Linked DNA regions of Homo sapiens: region 1 is linked to region 2. The links come from fine-mapping of genetic effects on gene expression. A gene starts in region 2. The other region holds a variant in brackets. All regions are shown on one strand. Distances are between the middles of the regions. Region 1 overlaps PHF14 (PHD finger protein 14). Region 2 holds the start of PHF14 (PHD finger protein 14).

What was found. PIP is the estimated chance that this variant, and not a neighbour inherited with it, causes the effect.
Region 1: its variant is the best candidate, but not a certain one, in a credible set for the expression of PHF14 in monocytes after R848 (Quach 2016, PIP 0.68).

What each region holds. Positions count from the first base shown.
Region 1 is chr7:10,993,150-10,996,052 of GRCh38, forward strand. The region is part of intron 4 of PHF14 (PHD finger protein 14); the gene reads left to right. Among named protein-coding and RNA genes, the nearest start is that of PHF14, 21 kb to the left of the region's middle. The variant A/T (reference allele first, on the strand shown) is at 1,834.
Region 2 is chr7:10,972,628-10,975,530 of GRCh38, forward strand. It overlaps PHF14 (PHD finger protein 14), which reads left to right and starts at 1,245. Exons shown (of 18, transcript NM_001007157.2): 1 at 1,245-1,697; 2 at 2,208-2,318. The coding sequence starts at 1,697. RefSeq lists silencers at 440-489, 1,000-1,059, 2,040-2,089 and an enhancer at 1,015-1,309.

The DNA of each region.
Region 1 (2,903 bases), 21 kb after region 2:
ATCACTTGGTTGAGAGGGTGTCTTTCTGGTTTATCTGTGGTAAAGTTATTTTTTCTTACCAATTAATTATTATTATTATTATTATTTTTTAATCAGGGCTGTGACTACCACAAAACAGTATTTCTATGGCCTTTCTCTTACCTGCTTTTCTGGTATTACAGCCCTTGTCCCAAGTAATTCTGGGAGTCTGCTGGACTTGTGGGACTTTGCATGATCTGTGATTCTCTAGCTAATGCTCTGATCTTCATGTGGAGCTGCCCTTTTTTTGCTGCTAACACTCACTGTGGGAATATCTCCAGTTACTGTTATTCATTTATATTTTTAGTAATGTTTGTTGAGTACCTTCTATGTGCTTGGTATTCTGTAAATTTTAGGCATATGAAATAGAATGTACACATTGTTGACCTGGTGGAACTTAATGTCTGGACAGACAGGCAGTAAACAAACCAATAAATATCTCTTAGTTGGTGGCCCAGATTCTGAAGAAAAATGAAGTAGGACAAGGAGTATAGGAATGCTGTGTGTGAGGGTGGTTGGGTGAGTTGCAGAAGTTTGTATTTGTAAAAATTGATAAGGGGCTGGGTACGGTGGCTCATGCCTGTAAATCCCAGCACTTTGGGAGGCCAAGGCAAGCGGATCACCTGAGGTCAGGAGTTTGATATCAGCCTGGCCAAAATGGTGAAACGACGTCTCTGCTAAAAGTACAAAAATTAATCCGGCATGGTGGCACGTGCCTGTAATCCCAGCTACTCTGGAGGCTAAGGCAGGAGATTTGCTGGAACCTAGGAGGTGGAGGCTGCAGTGAGCCAAGATTGCGCCAGTGCACTTTGGCCTGGGTGACAGAGGGTGACTCTGTCTCAAAAAAAAAAAAAAAAAAGTTGTTAAGGGAAATCCACTCTGATAAGAGGATATTTGAGCAGTGACCTGAAGGAAGTAAAGGAGCAAGTCACTTAAATATATTGGGAACGAGCACTGCAAGTGGAGGGAGTAGTGAATGTAAAGATCTCAGCCAAGCACAATGGCCCACGCCTGTAATCCCAGCACTTTGGGAGGCCGAGGCAGTGAATCACTTGAGGTCAGAAGTTCAAGGCCAGCCTGTCCAACATGGTGAAACCCCATCTCTACTAAAAATACAAAAAATTAGCTGGGCATGGTGGCATGTGCCTGTAGTCCTAGTTACTCAGGAGTCTGAGGCAGGAGAATGGCTTGAACCCAGGAGGCAGAGGTTGCAGTGAGCTGAGGTCGAGCCACTGCACTCCAGTCTGGGCAACAGAGTGAGACTCCGTCTCAAAAAAAAAGATCTTGAAGTGGTAGCATGCTTAAGAGTGTTTGTATAATGGCACAGAAGTTTGTATGGCTAGAACTGGGTGAGCAAGCTGGTTAGTGGTGGGAGTAGAGATGGGAGTAATCCAGCTGGGGTCTTGCAGATTCCGGTACTGATTTTAGATTTTATTATTGTGTCCGGAATTGGTGGGTTCTTGGTTTCACTAACTTCAAGAATGAAGCTGTGGATCCTCGCGGTGAGTGTTAACAGTTTTTAAAGGCGGCGTGTCCGGAGTTTGCTCCTTCTGATGTTCGGATGTGTTCGGAGTTTCTTCTTTCTGGTGGGTTCGTGGTCTCGCTGGCTCAGGAGTGAAGCTGCAGACCTTCGCGGTGAGTGTTACAGCTCATAAAGGCAGCGCGTACCCGAAGAGTGAGCAGCAGCAAGATTTATTGCAAAGAGCGAAAGAACAAAGCTTCCACAGTGTGGAAGGGGACCCGAGCGGGTTGCCATTGCTGGCTGGGGCAGCTTGCTCTTATCCCCTTCTCTGGCCCCACCCACATCCTGCTGAT[A/T]GGTCCATTTTACAGAGAGCTGATTGGTCTGTTTTGACAGGGTGCTGATTGGTGTGTTTACAATCCCTGAGATAGACACAAAAGTTCTCCAAGTCCGCACAGAGCACTGATTGGTGCATTTACAAACCTTGAGCTAGACACAGGGTGCAGATTGGTGTGTTACAAACCTTGAGCTAGACACAGAGTGCTGATTGGTGTATTTACAATCCCTTAGCTAGACATAAAGGTTCTCCAAGTCCCCACCAGATTAGCTAGATACAGAGTGCTGATTGGTATATTTACAATCCCTTAGCTAGACATAAAGGTTCTCCAAGTCCCCACCAGATTAGCTAGATACAGAGTGCTGATTGGTGCATTTACAAGCCTTGCGCTAGACACAGAGTGCTGATTGGTGTATTTACAAACCTTGAGCTAGACACAGAGTGCTGATTGGTGTATTTACAATCCCTTAGCTAGACATAAAGGTTCTCCAAGTCCCCACTAGACTCGGGAGCCTAGCTGGCTTCACCCAGTGGATCCCGCACCAGGGCCACATGTGGAGCTGCCCGCCAGTCCCATGCCGTGTGCCCGCATTCCTCAGCCCTTGGGTGGTCGATGGGACCGCGCCACAGAGCGGGGGCAGCACTCATAAGGGAGGCTCAGGCCACGCAGGAGCCCATGGCGGGGTGGGTAAGGCTCAGGCATGGTGGGCTGCAGGTTCCGAGCCCTGCCCCGCAGGGAGGCAGCTGAGGCCCGGCGAGAATTTGAGAGCAGCGCCGGCGGGCCAGCACTGCTGGGGGACCCGGTGCACCCTCCACAGCTGCTGGCCCAGGTGCTAAGCCCCTCACTGCCCGGGGCTGGCAGTGCCCGCCAAGCCCATGCCCACCCGGAACTCGCGCTGGCCCGCAAGCGCCTTGCACAGCCCCGGTTCCCACCCGTGCCTCTCCCTCCACACCTCCCCGCAAGCTGAGGGAGCTGGCTCCACCCTCGGCCAGCCCAGAGAGGGGCTCCCACAGTGCAGCTGCAGGCTGAAGGCTCCTCAAGTGCGGCCAGAGTGGGCGCCAAGGCCGAGGAGGTGCCAAGAGTGAGCG
Region 2 (2,903 bases):
GAAGGATGAGTGGTTTTCATTTGAGAGGGCTGCAGGGTAACTGTTTCTATTTCAGATGAGGAGGTAAAAAGAATGGGCATTGAAAAGGAAAAATGTTTACTAAGTAGGTTATACATTTTGGAATAGAAGTTTCTATAGCACAATAGAAAAGTTTGAGAGGTCACATGGCAATGATAGTTTGGGTGAGAGTGAGGCAGGAGAATAGGGTGTGGAGGCAGGGAACCTAAGGATGTGTCACTCCGACTTCCTAAGAACTAAATTGAAAGGAAACCCCTAACTTTCCATGCCTAAGTAACAAAAGGACCAGAGGCTACTCCCTTTGCAAACCCCCACTTTTTCTGCAGGGCAGATGGGAAATTGGCTGTGGGCAGCAAATCAGACTGATTGCAGGAGAGTCTTCCTTTGCATAGAAGTATCACTTTGTAACTTCACCATCTGCAAGAAATCAAACTGATTGCAGGGGAAATCTTCCTTTGCATAGAGGTATACCACTTTGTAACTTCACCCTAGCCTCTGATTGATTGCTTTTTGCACCAATGTTTGCACAGGAGCATGACCTTTGTAACTTCACTTCAGCCTCTGGTTGGCTGCTTTCTGCAACCAATCAGACTGATTGCGCGTTACTTCATTTACATGAGGTGAGCATTAGGTGGCCAATAGGAAGCTTCTAGAGGGTATTTGGACTCAAGATTCTGTATCCGGGCCCTTGAGCCGCTGCTCAGGTCGCTTCCGTACAGAGCGTGCTTTAATTTTCAATAAGTCCCTGCTTTTGTTGTTTTGTTGCTTCATTCTTTCTTTGCTTTGCTGGGCGTTTTGTCCAATTCTTTGTTAAAAACGCCAAGAACCTGGACAACTTGCAGTCACGATCCTCTACCGGTGACAATATCATTTAAATATTGGTAGTGGCTTAAGGTAGCAAACATCCCTTTGTGGAACGTTTACTCAGTAAATCCTTAAAAAACAGATCAGAAACAAAAACTGGCCTCCCAGGGATTTGGACTCAGGAGGTGAATTAGGCGCGGAGAGGGCGGAGCCTTTGGGGTTTATGGGCGGAATTGCACAGGGTTTGGCGGGGATCTCTGCTCCGCCTTGGCACTACTCGGCTCCGCTCGCCTCCGCGCGGCTCCCTGGGCTTTCACTCGGCTCTGTTCGGCTCCTGCTCGGGAAGGGTGCGCGGGGGCGAGTCCTGCGCATGCGCCCTCAATTCCTGCTGCTCTCAGGGCTGCGCTCAGCCTCGTGTTTTCACTTCCTTTTCAGAGCTGTATCCGGGTCGCTGCTTTCCCTATTGTCTGAGGCAGCCGCCCTCGCGCTGTGCAATTTCTGGTCTTTCGTTGCTTCTGGTCCAGGCTAATAAAGTTTTTCTTTCTTTAATTTTTTTTCTTCTAGTTTTAACGGGAGAAATTAACTCCCCGGGGCCGCCGGGTTGACTGCGCTGCCTGGGCCGGAGGTCTTCTCCGGCCAGGGAGCGCTGTGGGAAGGGGCTCGAGCGGCCAGGGCCAGGCGAGGCCGGGGGGGCGGGGGGTTAGGGGACCGCGGGGCTACTCTTGGGAGCGCCCCTGTCCGGCTGGCTGCGCGCCGGTTTTAAATAGCATCTTTCGGACTTGTCTTCGCGGCCCCAGTCCCCGACCTCGGCGCTGCCTGGGCTCCTGCAGCCTCTCCCTAAGTCTTCTCCAAACGACCACCTCACGGATTCCTTAGTAAGTGTATCCGAGGCCTCTGCGGCGAGAGGTCCATTTCAGCCATTCTAGAAGTCAGGGCCGGTGGGAGCAGGGCAGGGGTGGGAGAGTCCTGCGGGAAAGCAGGATTGGTGGACCCTCGCCCTCCATGGTCCGCGGGAATGAAGCCCGCTTGTTTTATTCCCTGATTTTTGCCGTTTTTATTGACTGTTACGATGTCTAAGTGGGGGATTACGAGGAAGGTGCAGAAACATCTCGAAAAGATGAGCAAGAGGGTCAGCTTCGATTTTAGCTGGTCTGAGTTGGCGTTGGCAGCATCAGGGCTGGAGCTGCCTTTGAAACTGCCCGTGGAGCTGTCCAGCCCTCCCCACCCTGCTTCTGCACCCCAACCTTCTCCTGACCCCTTTTGCTGAGAACTCAGTTAGACAAAAATTCCTTGTGCGAGGTCATCTTTATGTTCTCTTAGCACCACAACTCTCCCCTGTGTTTGGTGTGATTATGAATGACAATGTAATTTTTTTCTCTTCACAGTGGATCGCAGCTCCAAGAGGAGGCAGGTGAAGCCTTTGGCAGCTTCTCTGCTGGAAGCTCTTGATTATGATAGTTCAGATGACAGTGATTTTAAAGTTGGAGATGCCTCAGGTAAATATTTCCTTCTCTCTTCCCCTTTCCCAGCTTTCTGGAGTTAGGCTTATTTTTAGACTTTTTAAATCGGTTTTGATTAAAATGCCAATTTTAAGTGAAAGCACGTAAACTTCATTTATTTTGTCCATTTGATTTCCCATTTTGCCTTTAGATCCTGTCACTAGACCTATAATTGCTTCTGTTTTCCTCAGAGATAATTAGCAGTCAGGGGAAGGACTTTTTCCAAAGATGCAAAAGGATTTCTCTGTTTTACACCTTAAAATATATTTATGCTTATATTATAGAGGAAAAAACTGAAAGATATCCCGAAGTAGAAAAGTATCCTGAGAGGTGTGTGGACCATTAATAGTCCCTGAGCAGGGTTCTTCTTTTTTCAGATCACTTGACAATCTCTTAGGGGAGTTTTGCTTTTTTTGTGTATTAGCTCTTTTACTAGAATAAAATTGACCAGAGTAAGAGTTGCACTTCAAATTATAGTAGGTGCTGGACCTTGTGGATTGGGCCTTTCAGATGTCTCTGAAGTATAAGTCATGCATGCTTGCTCACTATATTTAGTAATTTTAAAAACTTTTTTTAAAGGTC